3 linked regions of the Homo sapiens genome follow. The protein of the gene in region 1 interacts with the protein of each later gene in a pairwise test. Each region holds a gene or a part of one and is shown in the gene's direction. Other genes may lie near its edges.

The links.
Region 2: the proteins of ITGA6 (region 1) and ITGB4 interact in binary tests that used the Homo sapiens proteins (3 or more experiments, as listed by UniProt).
Region 3: the proteins of ITGA6 (region 1) and CD151 interact in binary tests that used the Homo sapiens proteins (3 or more experiments, as listed by UniProt).

Annotation. Positions count from the first base shown.
Region 1 is NC_000002.12:172,430,006-172,438,332, forward strand, and holds part of ITGA6 (integrin alpha-6 isoform b preproprotein), read left to right. Parts: intron 1-8,327. UniProt on the Homo sapiens protein: Integrin alpha-6/beta-1 (ITGA6:ITGB1) is a receptor for laminin on platelets. Integrin alpha-6/beta-1 (ITGA6:ITGB1) is present in oocytes and is involved in sperm-egg fusion.
Region 2 is NC_000017.11:75,717,122-75,724,616, forward strand, and holds the start of ITGB4 (integrin beta-4 isoform 1 precursor), read left to right. Parts: upstream 1-4,337; 5' UTR 4,338-4,491; intron 4,492-5,157; exon of another isoform or gene 5,158-5,306; coding exon of another isoform or gene 5,307-5,401; intron 5,402-7,495. UniProt on the Homo sapiens protein: Integrin alpha-6/beta-4 is a receptor for laminin. Plays a critical structural role in the hemidesmosome of epithelial cells. Is required for the regulation of keratinocyte polarity and motility.
Region 3 is NC_000011.10:835,952-839,489, forward strand, and holds the end of CD151 (CD151 antigen), read left to right. Parts: intron 1-111; 5' UTR 112-118; coding exon 119-202; intron 203-299; coding exon 300-491; intron 492-817; coding exon 818-892; intron 893-1,298; coding exon 1,299-1,403; intron 1,404-1,508; coding exon 1,509-1,667; intron 1,668-1,990; coding exon 1,991-2,077; intron 2,078-2,181; coding exon 2,182-2,241; 3' UTR 2,242-2,880; downstream 2,881-3,538. UniProt on the Homo sapiens protein: Structural component of specialized membrane microdomains known as tetraspanin-enriched microdomains (TERMs), which act as platforms for receptor clustering and signaling.

The DNA of each region.
Region 1 (8,327 bases):
CTGGACCAGCTTCCTAAACTCTATGGAAAAACTCAGTGGGGGTCTTTCAGGGACCTGGTGGGAGAGAGACCTAAGCTGAGATTCCTTCTCGGCCTTTTATTAGCAGCTGTTAATTTACTTTGAGCTTTAATTTCTTTATCTGTAAAATGGAGATATTACTGCTTACTGGGGTTATTATGAGGATTAAGAGATAATATGCAAAGTGCTTAATGCCTGTCTGGCATGGGTACTTGCTGACTAAATGGTAGCTGTTAATGATCATTTAAAAAGCAGTAATTGTGTACCTACTGTGTGTCAGGTACCTTACAAGGTGTCTTAAACATTCTGTGATTCTAAGATTGCCTGAGAGTAAAGCCAAAGGTGGTTGTTTTTGGGTAATGATATTTTAAACTCAGTCATATTTATGAAACCCATGTTCAAAGCAACTTAACTTTAATAGGTCTTAATTAGACTTATAACAAAAGTGAGTTTAATGAACAGAGGACTTTGAGGAAGGAGAAGTAAAATATCAGATGCATGGGACGGTCAGATAAAAGCACGATCATAGAAGACCTATCATAAATGTTTGTAGTTCAAATTTTCTATAGTGCCTTTAACTATTCAGTCACATTTTAAACTCCAGTTATGACTTTTGCAGAATAATATTGTGTCAGAGAGCCCCAAAACATGTCGGGTGTTCCTAAAGCTTTGGAGACTATAAAATTGAAGTAGATACCATAAACTTCATCCAGGTTTTCAGGCTGTATATTAAAGAAGTTTCGGACTCCAAAAGATTACTCAATGGTCAGCCAAGTTGGTCCGCCGAGTGACTGAGGTCAGGGTCTGAGCACCTTGGACTCTTTAATTTCTCTTAGGTAGTTAAGATTGAGTCATTCCCAGAGGTGGAAGGTATGTGATGATGACTGTGGGTATATCCAGCCTATGAATCATCACTCTTAGCTCTTCTGGGAAGAGATGGATCTATATATGATCACAGGGAAGAACCTAGAAGAAGGAGATCTATAAGAGATAGTCTCATGAAGTCATTTTGGATTTCTGCCAACCCTCATTTTCTTCTTTATGGGGTCTCTCTCTCTGACCACCACTGTCTTCCAGAAATGCTCCAGGCCCGCGGTCTGTTCTGTTCTGACCCTTACTAGGTTTGTTCTTGACTTTTCTCAGACTTGTCATGTTCCATCTCTTAAAATCATATTTTCTGAACTAGAGATCATCTAGTCCAACTGCCTCTTTTTACAGATGAAGAAACTGAAGCTGAAAGTTCAGCTTGAGCAGAATCTTAACAGAATGTGGATTTGAATCTCTGACCCATGCTCATGCCATTTTTAAATGGAAAAGCCAGAAATGTTCTTCAGACCTAGAGAAATCGGCAAGCATCTGAATTTTGGAAGTGTACTATATTGTGTTGATTTATCAAACTGCTTCCCATATGCATAGGTCAGGGCTATCTATTTAAATATTGGTGCCTGGACTCTTACTATTGACTCTATTCCAGCTGGCCTTGGAACAAGTTCTGGGTCCGTCCTTCTTTGCCTGCCTCCACCCCATTCCCTTCTGAAAAAGCCCAGTGAAGTGTGGCTGTAGCTAGCCAAGAATCAGAGCTGTATTCAGGATGTGTACCTAAGCACTTGCTTCCTTGCATTTATTCACTCGGAGTGCCATGTGGCCCAGGGCCATCTTCCAGGGATTGCTGGGTCACCTTGAATGCTAAGAGTAGAGAAAAAGCCAAAACGGGCAGCGAGACTTACAGGAAGTCTTAGGACTCTGCAAGAAAGCAGAAATAGGCAAGTTTAATTTTAACACAGGCTGGTGTGAGACCAAGTAATGACAGGGTTGGGGAAAAAAAGGGTCAAAGTATTTATATGGTATAAATAATTTGTTGGGGAAGTCAGGATAAATGCTTATATAAAAGGATTCCTTTATTATAAAGAAGTGGTTATTCTGTGTTCTCAGTTATATAGACTCTCTTAGCATAACAATATATTGAGATTTAATTTAAGCTTTCATAACCAAATAGTACCAGAATTATGGCGCATGGTTTCCTGAAGACCTCGGCTCAACATATTACTGTGGACAGTGAGGCCAGTGAATTATTTGGTATTTTCAAGAGGGACAGTGAGACAAAACAGAAAATACTGTTGTAAGCTTAGATGACAGGGTCAATTGTGCCTGAAACACTGATTTAGTGCTGAATCAGCCCATTTTAAGAATATAATCATAGCTTAAGAACCAGTTTAAAATTTCCCCATCCTACACTAAAGCAATGTCTTTAACTCCTTTGGATGTCTGTAGCACATTGTGTCTGACAATTCTGATGTTTTGTGCTAAACTGTGATCCACTATCTTTAGGACATGATCTAATCTCTCCCAACTGGATTGTAGGTTATGTGAGGGCAGGGGTCTTACATTCATTTCTTTGCCTGCTAGCACCTAGCATATGCCTTGCAAATACAATAGAGACTGATATTATACACTCAGTTTAACCTGTGACATCAACTCTTCCTGCTGAGGGTGGAGAGAGGGAGAAATCCCTTTCTTTAACCCTTTGCCCTTCCTTGCTCAGGCCTTGGTGTCTTCTGCCTCTGAGGAAACGGAATCTGTAAGCTTAGCAAAGAAACGCACAAGACGTTAATTCTTGGTTTTTGATTTTTCAAAGGCGGGGGGTTCCAGCTAAGGGATTTTCATGAGTGTTTGTAAATTTCACCTGGCTTTTGCCCTAAAGGCAGACTTTAGAACCTAACCCCAGAAATACAGGCTGACCTACACTGCAGTGGGTACTCGGGACTTGCTGAGGTGGTTGGTTGTTATGAGGCTGGACAGAGAAGGATGACTGTGGAATAGAGATCTTTCTGAAAGCAACTTGACAGGGGTGTGGGGGTCAAATGGAAGTGTGCAGTACACGTGTGAAGTCACTTGTGAATTGATAGCGGCAGGTTTATTTCTTCAAGGATAGTAAGGGAATCTTGGATATATTTAACTCTTTCGGTAGGATGGTGGGAAGGCTGCTTACCTGCTCCGGGGGTGAGCCTAGGAGCCATAGCATGGGATCTGGGGATCTGTGTAGCACCCCCGCTGGCTCCTGGGAGGATGGTAAAGATTACGTACTGCAGCAGTGGGAAGTGGACGTAGTCTCAGCCCCCGGTGCCCATCTTCCCTTTCTGGGCTTGGGTACAACTCTGGAATCAAATAACTTTATATCTGGAAGGAAGCTTAGGGGTTCTGAAACCTGGCTGGTCTTCAGGGTAACTACTTGGGCAACCTTTTATAAAAGTGTGATTCTCAGCCCAGCCTAGATCTGTTACGTCAGTTTCCATAAGTGTGCTCCAAGAAGCTGTTCTTAAAGTCTTCTTCGTTTGAGTCAGACTAGCTTTTCTCCTTTACACAGAAGGCAGAGTGTAATGTAGTGACTAAGAGCAGAGCCTAGAGCCAGGTAGGATCAAACCCTTTTCTGCCATTGACTAGCTATGATTTTGTGCAGGATTCCTAACCTTCCTAGGCCTTCCTGCCTTCAGCTGTGAAGCTAGTATCCTCGCACATTAGAATAGTCCTGGTCCAGAGTGAGCATTTTGTGTTTGTTAAATAGATGAGGAAACCAAGGCTGTAAGAGGTGCAGTGGTGGCGGCATGTCTAGCAAACTTGGTCTTCAATCTGCATCTTCCCTGCTTCCCGGCCTGTGCTGTGTATGTGCTTTCTCCTTTTAGGTTTGGTTTTCATCACGTTTAAAGGTTTGGTTTTCATCACATTCTCCCTTTCTTCCATTCCACTCTCCAGTTGAAAAGTGCATCTCAGAAGAGCCATGCCTTCTACTTAGCAGCCCTTCGTAGCTACTAAGCCATAGATAAATCCCAGTGAGGTCTCAGTGTTCAGAGATGAGTGGACAGATGGGTGCATAGACATGACGGGGCAGTGACTGTGAGCTGGATACCCATGGAGGGTGGGTGGTGCAGTTATAGGTTGGGCTTACTGCTAAGGAATACCACCTGTCTGGTTTCCAGGCCTTCTTAGACCTCTATGACCTTGAAAGCACCCCCACACCTCCATCCCTAGGAGGCTGGATAACTTGCACAACACCCAGGGCAGGTTTGAAAACGATTTATTTTTCTTAGTTTTTTGCTTGGCACTAATGTTTGCTAGGAAGGAGCTTGTGGATTATTGATGACAAAACTGCCTAAGGTTGGAAAGTATGTGGGCAAATATGGAAGTAGTGTTTCCTTCACAGGTTTGTTAAACTGGCATTTAGATTTGCAAACACTGATCTCTTGGAATTAAGTTAAAAGGCTAATTGTTAATTAGCCCTGAACTGGGGCAGGTAGATGGGCCTCTCACCAGTGCAGGTCCCTGTCAACTAATAACAGGGTTTGATAACCACCATCAAATCTGCTATCTGGCTTTTCTGCTTAGATAAACAAGGCAAGACGATCTCAAACCAGCATACCGATTCCGAGGTTGGCATGTTTGTAGAAGACTGTTCTCAGGCCGCAGTGTGGCAGCAGACCCTCCCCAGTTCAGCCCCATGCCAGATTCCAACGTTGGATCCCACTGTCGCTTCATCTCATCCTAAATTGGCAGAAAGACTGTTTAGAAAACTAAGTCTCTAAAACCAATTAAATGGTAAAGAAGACTGTTCTGAATTAGGGGGAATGGGATGAAGTACCACTAAACGCAAGTCACAAAGGGCAAAAACTCATGACATGGAGCCGTGGGTATCTGCTTGCATGTTTATTTGCCAAGCGGCTAGTATATTTTGCATGTCATACAATCTGAAACTTACTTTTTTGAAAAGCCATTTCAGATATAGTATAAGAAAAGCCTTTGAGAGAAACATGCTTTCTAAGCCTGGGAGTACAGAAATAAAAATAAACTTTGCAATAATTTGAAAGGGGCACACTGGTTAGTTGAAGAGTAAGGAAGCACCCAGTAATGCCTCTTTACCCAAGAGCTCTGTTTGCTTTGCTCGGTGATATCAATGTCACTGTGGTTTCTTCATTTTGAAAAGGAAGTTCATTTGTACTGAGGTGGTTTTAAGTGTGTGTGTGTGTGTGTGTGTGTGTGTGTGTATGATGCAAATGATAATAAACATTTCAGACCCAGAGGGCAGAATGTCACTGAACCTAAGCCCTCCTGAGCCAAATAACTCCTTTGTCCTTGCAGAATCAGGAGCCCTTCTCTTCAGGATATGCTGCCATTATGATAAAGCATTGTGATGTAAAGTTAACGAGAGGATCCTTATCCAAGTGAATCACAGCCAAGGGGTGGAATGGTTGGCCTCTGGTAGGGATGCCCCATTCAGCAGCACTGAGAGTTTGGAGTTGTTCTGTTCTCTTTCCTTCTTGCTGAGGGTAGTAAGAAATCCTCCCTAGGCCCCATTCCCCTGATATATCTTGCGGGTGATGGCCTCTTACTGGCAGTGTGATTATGTATGTCCCTTTAGAACAAAGGTATCGAAACAATAAAAGTTGTGAAATGGAAATGTTTACAATTCTACAAGGCTCCAGAGAGATTAGAGATAGGTAGGAAAAAGGCCATTGTTTTCCAATCAAAGGTGCTGAGAACCTGTTGATTGGACCTAAGGAATCCAGCTTTGCCACGACACAAAACCCAAGAGTTTTGTTTCTTTTTTTTTTTTTTTTTTTTTTTTGTTGAGACAGAGTCTCACTCTGTTTGCCCAAGCTGGAGTGTAGCGATGCGATTTCAGCTCACTGCAGCCTTGACCTCCTTGGGCTTAGGCAATCCTCCCACCTCTGCCTCCCCAGTAGCTGGGACTGCAAGTGTGCAGCACCACACCCAGCAATTTTTTTGTGTTTTTAGTAGAGTCAGAATGCTACCATGTTGGCCAGGCTGGTCTCGAACTCCTGGATTCAGGCAATCAGCCTGGCTTGGCCTCCCAAAGTGTTGAGATTACAAGCGTGAGCCACCATGCCCAGCCCCAAGAGTTTTCAAAAAAGGAAGAGTTCAAAGAGGCTCAGAAATGATCAAGTGGACATACAGAGACATAATTTTAGGAAAGGGATATTATTAATATTTGCCAGTGAGTCCTCGTTACTGCTGGTGAGACTAGGCCCAGGTACCGACTTAAGGCGATACTTTGAAAAAGTTGAGAGGTGGCTTAAAGACCTGGGTGATGAATGAAGAAGACCTCCATGACTTTACAAGTGCAAAGAGAGATGGGTCTGGGCACTGCTGGGCCTTTTAGAGGCTCAAGGACAGTGGCCTTGGGGAAGGCTGAAGGAGACACCTATTGAATTAGATGGTGCCAAGGCTGAGGGAGGACTTTCGGGAATCCCAGACTAGAGAAGTGTTTTAATGCCAAGAACATGGGAAACCCATTTCAGATACTGTATCAGATAAGCCAGCTTAGAAAAGCACCTTCTAAGGCTTGCCCTATATTTAGAAAGGGCTGCTACAGAGGTTAACTGAGAAGGGGTTGTAGGAATGTGGAGAGGCGTTGTGAGGATCCTCATTCAGGATGATCTGGGAGGTAAGCTCTGAGAGACAATGATACCTCTCCCCAAGCTTAGCAGCCATGCCAGAAGCCAGCTGAGAAGGTTTTTCAATATCATAGAATATGTAAGCTCTGTAAGCTCATTTATTTCTCTCTGTGTGTGTACATGTTTTAACCCAAAAGAAATAGGGATTTTTGTCTGTATTCGAACATGCAGGGAATGTGGTCTGGACCTGCCAGAGAAACCGTGGCCAGCTTTTTGGGGTTTTCCTATAGAAATTGTTCATTCAACAGATATTCACTGAGTATTTACTATGTATTTGGCACTGTTCTAGTGCTGGGGCTACAGCAGCAAACAAAATAGACAAAATCCCTGCCTATGTTCTGATCGGGGAGACAAACCATAAACAAAAAGGTGTATTATGTTAGATAGTAATAATTAATGCAGAAGTGTTAATGCAAGAGAGGGGAGAATGGTTGATGTGATCTGCAAAAATATAAAGTAGAGAGGGAACAGGGAGTGCAGATGGGGAGGGAAGTGGTCAGCAGTAGGGCTGCCTGGGAAGACTTTGCTGAGAAGGTGAAGCTGCATTCCTGGCAGAGAGAATGGCAAACACAAAGGCCCTGAGGCAGAAGCATGTTCAGGCAAAGCAGTGAGTCTCCTTGGAGGCAGATTGTATAGGGCCTTATGGATCATCGAATGACTGGCTTTTACTCATGAATGAGATGGGGAGCATTTGTAGGTTCTGAGAAGAGTAGGACATGTCCTCACTTGGATTTTAAATGGATTTCTCTGGCCTGCAGCCTTGAGAGTAGACTGTATGAGGACAAAGATAGAAGTAATGATACTGACTAGGAGGCTCCTGTAATAAACAGATAAGAGATGGTGATTTGGACCAATGTGGCAGCAATGAATATAGTAAAAAGTGCTTGGATTCAGGATATGTCTTGAAAGTAGAGTCAACAGGATTTCCTGGGGACTAGGTATCAGTTGGGACAGACAGAGTAGAGAAGAATGTGTCCAAAGTTTTTGACCTGAGCAGCTGGAAGGATGGAGTTGTATTATGGTTTGGGGAGAGATGTGAGAGTAATAGATTTTGGGGGCAGGGCAGGAGTATGGTTTTAGATATGTCAGGTTTGGAGTGTCTAGACAGCCAAGTGAGTTATTTAGGCAGTTGAGTAAGCAGCTGAGTCAATTAAAAAAATTGAATTTAAAAGCCTGAAGTTCAGTTGGAAAGGTTTGATTGGTGATGCAAGTAGAGGAGCCTCTAGGTTGTGTTTAGAATGATGAACTGATGAGGGCACCAAGGACGGGGATGGAGGCCTGAGCCCTATGGTGTTCTTACACATGGAGGTTAGGGAGAGCCCTGGAGACTGACACCCATGGCAGGAGGAGAGGGAGGGAGTGTGTGGTCCTGGAAACCACATGATGGGGTTTCAAAGAGGAAGTGAAAGATCAGTTATATCAAATGACACTTACTGAGATTTGATCGCTAGATTGGCAATGTAGAAGCCACTGGTGACCTTGTGAGAGCACTGATGGGGAGGAGTGGGAGCAATGCCTAATTGGAGTGGGTTTGTGAGAGAACAGGAGAGAAGGAATTGGAGACCATAGGAACTCTTGAGGGGTTTTGCTGTAGAGGGGAGCAGAGCCATGGCAACAACTGTAAGGGGAAATAGTGGGTTTTTGTTTCGTTTTGTTTAAGATGGGAGAAGATTATAGTGAGCTGGTTTGATGAAGATGATTCAGTCAAAAAGGAAAAGTTAATGCAAGAGAGGGGAGAACTGTTGGTGTGACCTCACCAACTGAGTAGGTGAGAGGACGTACCGTGGGGGAGGTGGCCTGATGACTGGAGCAAGGGTAGCTCATCACAGTTATGAGGAAGAA
Region 2 (7,495 bases), on another chromosome or scaffold:
CCTGTAATCCCAGCATTTTGGGAGGCCAAGGCGGGCAGATCACCTGAGGTCAGGAGTTCAAGACCAGCCTGGCCAACACGGCGAAACCCCGTCTCTACAAAAAATACAAAAATTTAGCTGGGCGTGGTGGCATGCACCTGTAGTCCCAGCTACTCGGGAGGCTGAGGTAGAATTGCTTGAACCCAGAAGACAGAGGCTGCAGTGAGCCGAGATTGCACCATTGTACTCCAGCCTGGGCAACAAGAGCAAAATTCTGTCTCAAAAAAATAAAGGGGGGTATTGAGGTTACGTGGGGGACTGTTCTTGAGAGATACATGCTGGAGTGTTTAGGATGAAATGGCAGGATAAGTGCAACTTCAAATTTAAAAATATACAAATGTTTAACAAATATATAAATAAATACAGCAAAATATTATTCTTGAGTCTAGTTGGTAAAAATACGGGTGATTTTTGTATTCTTTCAACTTTTTGGGGCATGGTGGCTCACGCCTGCAATCCTTGCACTTTGGGAGGCTGAAACGGGAGGATTGCTTGAGCCCAGGAGTTCAAGACCAACCTGAGCAACATGGTGAAACTCTGTCTCTACAAAATAAAAATTAAAAACTTATCCAGGATTTGTGGCACACACCTGTAGTCTCAGCTACTCAGGAAGCTGAGGTGGGAGGATCACTGGAGCCCAGGAGGTTGAGGCTGCAGGGAGCCTCGATCGTGGCACTGCCCTCCAGCCTAGGCAGCAGAGTAAGACCCTGTCTCAAAAAAGAGGGGGCCTATTGAGCAACCCCTTGGCTCTGAGGAGAAAACAAACCCCAGGATTCTGCACCGGAGAGGCCTCTGCCCCCAGTCTGAACATGTGGTTGATGCGGGCTCTCCAGACAGGTCACTGGACTCTTTCCACCACACATCCCCTGTCTATTTATTCTTTAACTTGTTCTTTTATAAAACAGGTGCCAATCTACCAATAAGTAATGTACATTCTCAAGTATAAGAATAGGGGCTCAGGGCTGGGCGCAATGACTCACGCCTGTAATCCCAACACTTTGGGAGGACAAGGCAGACGGATCACCTGAAGTCAGGAGTTCAAGACCAGCCTGGTCAACATGGTGAAACCCCATGTCTACTAAAAATACAAAAATTAGCTGGGCATGGTGGTGCGTGCCTGTAATCCCAGCTACTCAGGAGGCTGAGGCAGGAGAATCGCTTGAACCCAGGAGGCAGAGTTGCAGTGAGCCGAGATTGCACCACTGCACTCCAGCCTGGACGACAGAGTGAGACTCCATCTCAAAAGAAAAAAAAAAAAAAAGAATAGGGTCTCAGCTAGCACCTACCTCGAGAATACTCAGCCTACTTTGGAGACCCCTGGTTTGAACTGGGAGTGAAGGAAGCAGGCCGTAGTTCTCGTTCATCTTGGTATCCCCAGCATTTGGCATAGGAGCTCATTAACTGCTCATAAAATGAATAAATAATTGAACTAATGAATGAACAAGTCTGACCTACTGGAGGCCACATGAGGAGTGCAGGGGAGTGGAGGAGCAACAATCCAAGGTCCTTGGGCTCGGTCCTGTTCCAGGGGCCTCACCTCTCTTGCAGAGCCTAGGAAGCCCCCTATGAGCCAACCTCACTCTGGCCCTAAGGCTGCAGAGATAGTGGGGTTTATTTTAGTTTTATAAAATTCACATGCAGGCTGGGAGCAGTGGCTCACGCCTGTAATCCCAGCACTTTGGGAGGCTGAGGTGGGTGGATCACTTGACATCAAGAATTTGAAACCAGCGTGGCCAACATGGTGAAACCCCAACTCTGCTAATAATACAAAATTAGCTAGGCGTGGTGGTGTGCACCTGTGATCCCAGCTACTCGGGAGGCTGAGGCAGGAGAATCGCTTGAACCCAGGAGGCAGGGGTTGCAGTGAGCCAGGATCGCACCACTGCACTCTAGCCTGGGCAATAGAGTAAGACTCCATCTCAATGACAACAACAAAAAAAATCACATGCAATATTTAAACTTCTGGGGCCAGTAACCTATTTGGGAATCCAGTGTAAGCTAAGGCTCCCCTCCCAGCAAACCCACATTCTGAAATCAGATACTCCTCAAAGTTTGCACAAGATCTGAGATGGTTCAGGGACTCCCCACTGCCAAGTCCACATGCGGGCTCCAGGTAATGAACCCCAGGACTCCGAGAAGCCAAGGAAGCTCATGGCTTATCTTACTTAGTGAGACCTCCCTGGGTTGACATCTCGCCTCTCAGCTGCTACAGGGCTCCAGGCCCCCTAGTCATTTTCAGAAGGGTTTGCAATGAAGAGAGGAAGGGGCTGCTGAGCCCAGTGGCCTGGGGCATCGCCAGCTCTGGACCTGGGTCTTCTCTAGGAAGAAGCCTCAGCCCCCACCCACAGTGGGGTGTATATGACCCCCTAGTTCTCTAATGGGTGCTGCTGGCAGACCCAGGCCCCTCAGGCAAGCTGTTTTTGGCCGTTCTCTGAGCTCCTGCTCCATGTTTCTGTTTTTTGGGGTGGATAGGTACCTGCTGGAGTGACTCAGGTCCACAGGGCACTTGTGCTGGCCTGACACACACAGATCTGAGTGCTTCAACCAAACTGGGACTCCTTCCACATTGTTCCCAAATCCAGGAGCAAGCCTCTCTGAACACTTTCTCTGTGCAGAACAGCTCTCAGATGACCAGGAAAGGTGGCGACTCACACATTTGCAACCAGCACCCCTGCAATCACTCTGAGAGGTAGCAGTGGAGGAATCTGTTTACAGATGACAGCATGGAGGCTCAGGGAGGCTGTGTGACCATCCCATTCACTCAACCACCCTTTTATTGAGCACCTGCTATGCACCAGGCATGGTGCTAGGTGCTAGAGAGTAGCTGCCCTTGGAGTCACAGTCCAACAGTGTGGCGAGATTCCTAAACATCATTTCAAACCAATGTGGCAAATGCCATGTAAAAGCCATGGCCCAAGGGTTATGGGGACACATAAACCAACTTGGGGTGTGGAGAGGTCAAGGAAGGCTCTCTAGCACGTGGTTGGTGCAACGTCTTCAAGGACAAGAAGGATAAACTGGGCTCAATGTCATGGGAAGGGACCAGCCTGTTGAAAAAGCACGGTGGCTTGAAACCGCATGGTTTGGACAGTGCTGTGCCAGCAGTCTGGTGTTGTTTGGCATTGCTGGCCAGTAAGCCTAGAGAAAAATGGAGCCCTGGCTGGGCATGGTGGTTCACGCCTATAATCCCAGCACTTTGGAAGGCCAAGACGGGTGGATCACCTGAGGTCAGGAGTTCGAGACCAGCCTGGCCAACATGATGTACTAAAAATACAAAAATTAGCCGGGCGTGGTGGCGGGCACCTGTAATCCCAGCTACTCGGGAAACAGGCAGGAGAAGCGCTTGAACCCGGGAGGCAGAGGTTGCAGTGAGCCAAGATTGCACCACTGCACTCCAGCCTCGGCGACAGAGTGAGACTCCATCTAAAAAAAAAAAGAGAGAGAAAACAAAAAGAAAAAGAAAAATGAAGCCCTTCTCTGACCTGAACACCCGTGGTAAGCAGTGGCAATGGAGAGACTGCTCTCAGAGGACTGACGGGAGGGAGGGGCCAGCTCTGTAACCAGCTTGTTAAGAACAACTGTAACAAGGCATCGAGTGCCAATCCATGCCAGGTCGGCACTGACCTCTCCAGGGTATCACTGTTCACACTGTAAGGAGATTTAAGTAGCTTGTTGAAGGGTGCACCGAGGACCCGACCCTTCCTCGGCTCTCCCTCTGGATACAACGTGAGGTTAGGGGTTGGAGGCTGAGAGGACCCCGTGAACTGCAGAGCAGAGCTGGGACGGGGAGTCAGGCCTCCCGACCGGGCCGGGGGCACTCCCTGGGCCCATGCCTCGCGCTGGCACGGAGAGCGGGGAGGGGGGTACGCGGCTGACGACCGTCGGGGCAGCAGCAGCAGCACAGCCCGGCGTTGGCTAGCGGCCCAGAGTCGGGGCAGGGAGGGTTCCCGTGCGGACGGGGGCTAAGAGGCCGCCTCCAGCCCGGGGCAGTCCGCGCACCCGAGCCTGGAGCCCGGAGCCTGGAGGGGTGGGGAGGCCCCGCGCCCAGGGCCGGACCGGAGGGAGAGGGAGAGCGGTGGCTCCTCCCCCGGCCCCCGCCGCTAGCCGATCGGGGCGCTGGGCGGGCGCCGCGGGAGCCGCAGCCCTTTCCGGGGGGCGGACCCGGCTCCGGCGGCGGCACCCAGCTCCTGCCCCGACAGGTGCGCGCCGCGCGAAGGAATGCAGCCGGTCTGACTCACCAGCGCCTCCTTCCTACCTGCGCGCCCGCCCCATAAAGCGCTGCCCGCCTCGTCCCCACCCCCCCAACCCCCGCGCCCGCCCTCGGACAGTCCCTGCTCGCCCGCGCGCTGCAGCCCCATCTCCTAGCGGCAGCCCAGGCGCGGAGGGAGCGAGTCCGCCCCGAGGTAGGTCCAGGACGGGCGCACAGCAGCAGCCGAGGCTGGCCGGGAGAGGGTGAGTGCCCGCCCCAGCTGGGCAGCCGCGCAGGGGAGCTGGTCGGGCAGGGCCGGTGGCTTTTGTCTCCCCTTCCCCTCCCTGAAGGCTGACAGGCCCCGGTCCCTCTGTCCACGCTGCGCAGGACAGGTGCCCAGCCTCCCCGGGGTGCGCCGGGGGCAGCTGGCAGCCAAGGGGCAGGGCAGCTAGAGAAGGGTGGTGCCCATCAGACCTCCAGGCCAGAGGAGCGCCTTGGGTGCGCCTGCGGGAGAAGTGGGCAGAGGCCAGTGGCTGGTAGCCCTCTGGGGCTGGGCCCCTCCAGGGTTTGCAAAGAAGGTGGAGTAGACACCAGCCTGAGTGCTGGGCCCAGCCCATCATGGCGCATCTAATGATAAACCAACATTCCTGACTTTTATGTGAAATTTCGTTCTTTCTAACATTGGCTCCTACTTTTAAAAGCCACCCTGAGAGGCAGACGCCATCCCGGCTCCAGGCAGGGCTTGCTCTATGCGGTGCCACAGTCCATCTGGGGCTGGGGAGTCCCTGATTTTCCTTTTCTCTTGGCCAAGCACAGGCCTGCCTTCCTCCCAAAGTCAGCCCCAGGCGCCTTCCTTCAGGAAGCTCTACAGGCCTCACCCACCAGCCCCAGGGCTGTGCCCAACACTGCCACCTCCTGCAGCATCCGCCCTCTTTCCCATGGCTCAGCCTCTGGGGTGGCCCTCTGGCTGGGACTGGGGCTCTGGGGCTCCTGGTGACTCCCAGGAGCAGGGACAGGGCTTCTCCTCTGCCCCCATGGCCTTGCCACACCCTGAGGACAAGGACCAGGCACAGGTGGCATGGTTGTTGCTGTCCGAAACAGAGCTGGCAGTGAAGGCTTGGAGTCTCCATCCTGGGGGCTGAGGGAAGGACAGCAGGAGGGACAGGAGGGGAGGTATGTCTGTCTACTCGACCCTGATTTCTCAGGGAGACAGAACAGCCAAGGGCCTGGGGTCCCCAGACTTCTGGCCAGCTGCCTCTCTGGGGCGAGGAAGGGCCTGGGTCCCTGAGGGGAGGAGATGTGACAGCGGGAGAGGATAGTGGACAGGAGCAGGTGTGCCCAGAGGGGTCCCCAGGGGTTGGGATGGGGGCCAGGGGAGCTCTGAGCCTGTGGGTGGGTGGGCATGGCCTGTGTGTGTGTGTGTGTGTGTGTGTGTGTGTGTGTCCCTGTGGGGGGGAAACTGCCTGTGCTGCAGTGTGATGGCATTCAGGGTGGCAGTCACACACTCCAGGGACCTGCTGGTACATAAAGTCGGGGCAGCCTGGTGGGGTCCGGGCCGCCTGGAGAGTAGGTGTCCTGAGCGCTGGGCCCAGCCCATCGTGATACATCTAATGATAAACACAAATTCCTAACTTTTATGGGAAATCTCGTTGTTTCTAACATTGGCTCCTACTTTTAAAACTTTCTAAACAAATGAAGCCAAACACTCTTGGGTGCCTCGCCAACCCTCTAACTGCCATTTTGTAGCTTCTGCGTGGAGGCTGCCATGGAGGTTAAAGGCAGGGCCTGCAGAGCAGGGCCCTGTCCTGGCCCTCCCAGTGCTGTCCGCGGGATGGGGAAGTTCCACAGCCTTCTGTGCCTGGTCTCTCATCTGGGAAACGGGCAGAATGAAATCATCTCCCGCCGGGCTCCTGTGCTGAGCAATCTCCTCCGTGAAGCCCTGGGCTCATATGGCAGTCACAGTGTGGGAATCAGCACTGCCTGAGGGGCTGTGGCCAGGGACAGTGGGAGGAAGAGCTGGGCTCAGCTCTCCAGGCCTGTACCTGCCTGTGTAATGATGCCTGGGAGGCCTGAGCCTGCAGCCTGTATTGTGTAGCATGTGGGTGTGGCGGCTACACCCCGAGGCTGCAAGGAAGTCATTTCCCTCTAGGAACCCTGCTGTCCCCACCCTTTCCCTGCTGGCTCAGGGCTGCCTCCCAGTCCCTGTGCCACAACAGGTCTGACCTGCATGTGTTGGCGCTGCTGTGGCCTCCTCCAGGCTGCACGCCTTAGAAGCAGGCTACGCCTTCCTGCCCTTGGCCTGAGAAGGGCTTCTCCAGCACCTCGGGGACCCCAGCCCCCAGACCCTGGGGTGGCCACTGCCCCAGAAGCCGGGCTGAGACAGGATTCAATGGGGAGGGCCCGTGGGCAGGGCAGAGGCTTGGGCCCCTGGGAGACCTGGCCCTAGAGAAAGAGGCGCGGTGCTCACCTTTGCCCCGGCCTTGCAGGCCTGGATGGCTCTGCCGCCAGCCTCTTTTCTTGTCCAGGCTTCAGGCTGAGCATCTCTTAGAGGGCCTCAGGGATGTCCAGTCCTGCCCTGAAGGCCGCTGAGGACTTAGGATGGTTTAATACTGAACCCACAGCCGCTGGGGACGCCTTGAGGGGAGCCACAGTGTGTGTGCATGTCTCACTCTGGGCTAACTTGTGAAAGGGTGAACAGCTCAGGGGCCCAGAAAACTTAACTCTGGGGCAGGCAGAGGTACAGGGGAGGGCAGATGATTCAGACCCCACCCTGATGGGCCGGGCAGTCACTGCAGAACCCAACCCGGTGCAGTAAGCCACTGCGGGCAGCTGTGGCCCAGCCCCAGGCCCCAGATATTGGGAGGGGCCCCTCTCCTCCCGGCTGTGCCACCCTCACCAAAGGGTAAGTGGGCCAGGACAGAAGGAGCAGGAGGCAGAGCTGCGGCCCCCTCTCAGGGAGGCACCCTCATTGGATGACCCTGTCATGGCCAAGCCTGACCCAGGCTCACTGGGAGCTAAAAGGCAAAGAAGAATAAACCCACATCTGCCCTCAGGGAGCCCAGTGCTGAGAGGCCTGGCACTGGGACAAACTCGCAAACCAGAGTCCTTGAGGGCTGGAGGGGGCCTCCCGGGGCAGGGCATAGGCCACTGCAGGGATGGCACGGAACAGGGCAGCGGAAAAGGCAGGAGTCCGAGGCCCAGGGCCCTGCCTCTGGCGGCTGGGCGCCCTTGGTCACATTGTTGGTGCTCAGAGCCTCAGTTCCCACA
Region 3 (3,538 bases), on another chromosome or scaffold:
GCTGGGATTACAGGCGTGAGCCACCGCGCCTGGCCCTGTGTCCCCTCCTATCCGTCTCCCAGTCAGGGGCCCGGTGCTGTGGCCCCGCTGACCCCTCCCCTGCCTCCTCAGCCCCAGGATGGGTGAGTTCAACGAGAAGAAGACAACATGTGGCACCGTTTGCCTCAAGTACCTGCTGTTTACCTACAATTGCTGCTTCTGGGTGAGGAGGGGTCGCCTTGCCCCCACCCCCACCCCCACCCCTCCCGGGCCACCATCAGACCTGGGCAGATGCGATGACCTTTGTGTACTGCTTGTAGCTGGCTGGCCTGGCTGTCATGGCAGTGGGCATCTGGACGCTGGCCCTCAAGAGTGACTACATCAGCCTGCTGGCCTCAGGCACCTACCTGGCCACAGCCTACATCCTGGTGGTGGCGGGCACTGTCGTCATGGTGACTGGGGTCTTGGGCTGCTGCGCCACCTTCAAGGAGCGTCGGAACCTGCTGCGCCTGGTCAGGAGGGCGCAGGGCCACGGGGTGGGGGTGGTGCAGATGGGCCCAAGGAGGTTGTCGCTGCAGGCTTTGAACCTGTGCCTTGCTGTGCTCACCTGGGGGGGGGGTCACGGTCCTTCCACACCTGCCTAGTCCTGTGGGTCCCCACGTTCCTGCTGGACCAGCTGAGGGAAGACACCAGCTCCGCAAGAAAGCTTCAGGGAGGGTGGCCGCCCCTCAGCCCCCACCTGGAGCCTGGGGAGCCGGGGTGGGGACTCTGCTCTGAGGTGCACTAGGTCTAGGCACTAGGCCTCAGAACAAGGGTGCCCTTGTGCTGCCCCCCCCAGTACTTCATCCTGCTCCTCATCATCTTTCTGCTGGAGATCATCGCTGGTATCCTCGCCTACGCCTACTACCAGCAGGTGAGGGGCCTGGGCAGGCCATTCAGAGACACAGACATGCACAGGCGGGGCGGACACACACACATGCACACGCGTGGCTAGCCCCAACCCCCACCCCCATGGTCCCAGAGCTAACCAATGTGCCACTGGGCCCTGGAGATGGGGTCTAGGTCTCTGCAGGGGCACATGGGGTCAGGCAGGTGTCCAGGGGATCCAGAAGCTCTCTCTGCCTCTGCCGCACTTCATTGTCACCCTGGTGACGGTCCTGGCACCACCCAACCTCCCCTCATGCCGAGGTGTGACCTCAGCCCTTCCCTGTGGCTCTGAGCTGGGCCCCGGGCCTCCCCACCGGCCATCCTGGGGCTCTGCCAGCCCCACCTTGGAAGGTCTTAGACTGAGGCTGAAGTTTCCTGCACCCCAACCCCAGCTGAACACGGAGCTCAAGGAGAACCTGAAGGACACCATGACCAAGCGCTACCACCAGCCGGGCCATGAGGCTGTGACCAGCGCTGTGGACCAGCTGCAGCAGGAGGTGGGTGGGTGGTGCTGGGAGGGCGCGTGCATCCCCAGGGCCTCCCTGGACCTCTGCAGGAGCCTCTGGCCCCAGGTCTCAACCCCAGCCTTGTTCTTGATGCAGTTCCACTGCTGTGGCAGCAACAACTCACAGGACTGGCGAGACAGTGAGTGGATCCGCTCACAGGAGGCCGGTGGCCGTGTGGTCCCAGACAGCTGCTGCAAGACGGTGGTGGCTCTTTGTGGGCAGCGAGACCATGCCTCCAACATCTACAAGGTGGAGGTGGGTGTGCAGCGGGATCATGCCTCCAGTGTCTACGAGGTGGTGGGGGGGCACCCCAGTGACTGGCTGTGGGCAGTGGGACACGCCTCCAATATCTACCAGGAGGTGGGGGGTCACCCCAGTGGCCGGATGTGGGCAGTGAGACCACACCTCCAATATCTACGAGGAAGTGGGTGGGCAGCCCAGTGGCTGGCTGAGCTGTTGGTGGCCTGGCTGCCTAGGTGCTAGGGGTGGGTTTGGCCACACCCTGGAGGCTGGAGGCAGTAGGGGCCAGTGGGAGGTGCCCCCTGGGCCCGCCTTCAACACCCATCCGCGCCCCGCAGGGCGGCTGCATCACCAAGTTGGAGACCTTCATCCAGGAGCACCTGAGGGTCATTGGGGCTGTGGGGATCGGCATTGCCTGTGTGCAGGTGAGGGCACATGGGGGTGGCGGTCATCTTGTTGGGGACACGGGGCAGGGCGGTGGCTGGTGGCCCCATGACGTCTGCTTACGCCCACCCGGCTCTGCACACAGGTCTTTGGCATGATCTTCACGTGCTGCCTGTACAGGAGTCTCAAGCTGGAGCACTACTGACCCTGCCTTGGGCCTTGCTGCTGCTGCACCCAACTACTGAGCTGAGACCACTGAGTACCAGGGGCTGGGCTCCCTGATGACACCCACCCTGTGCCATCACCATAACCTCTGGGGACCCCAACCTCAGAGGCAGCTTCAAGTGCCTTTTGCTGCGCACCAATGCCCAGCAGGGGAGGTGAGGGGGGCTGGCGGGGCGAAGTTTGGGGGGTGTTTTGTGGGGCTCCCCAGACACACTCTCTGCCTGGTGGTCAGATGCAGGTTGGAAGGGGCCTTGCTGAGTGGCGCAAGGCCGAGCGTTCCCAGCAGGGGGAGAAACCCTTCACACCCCAGGCCCTTCAGGAACTGGGGCCTTGCCTTGCAGCCACATGGCCCCATCCCAGTTGGGGAAGCCAGGTGAGCTCTGACCCTTGGGCCTGGGCCTCTGCCCCTCCCAACCCAGCCCTCGTCTCCCTCGACAGCGCCCCTGCTGTCTTCCCCACCGCAGTCACCACCACCCGAAATGCCACGTGGTCACTGTGCACTGCCCTGTTCATGTGCCTCTGCGGGGCAGGGCCTTCCTGGTTTTGTTCACTGCTGTACCCAGATGCCTACAACCATCCCTGCCACATACAGGTGCTCAATAAACACTTGTAGAGCAGATGGACGAGCTCGCTGTGCTGGTAACAGATGGTGGTCTGTTCTCAGGGCCCTCGCATCCAGCAGGGCAGACAGACCCACCCCCGCCCCGCCCAGTGTCAGGACAAAGAAGGGCAGAGCCAGGAGGACACACCCCCCATGGGGCTCCAGGGAAGGGAGGTCTGATGCCAGGGACAGCTGAGCACAGGCCTCAGCAGAAAGAACTGAACATGTTCCTAAATGGTGAGATGGTGTGTTCAGAGCCCCTGGGGGAGAGGAAAAATGGTTTCCAAAACCCTTCTGGCCATGGTGGGGAGCAGACGTGGGAAGGGTGCAGACTGGGGGCCGTGCCCAGGTAAGAGGTGTCAGGCAGGTGGGGTGGGGGCAGTAGGGTGAGGGGGTTTACATGGAGGAGCCTATAGGCCCTGCTGGGGGCCAGAGGGTAGGAGGTACCAGAGCCTGGTGTCTGGCAGAGGTACCCTGGAGATGGGAGCCAGGGCTCGGTCACTGATTGTGCCCCCCACTGCCCAGGTTCCTGTCCTTAAGGCTCAGAACTGTAGACCCTCAGGCAGACCCGTTCTCCCCTACCAGAGGACACCACGCCAGATATCTGGGCAGCAGGGACATCTGACCTGGGGTGCTTGCTGGCAGCACTGCCTGGACAGCAGGGCCTCCTTAGGGC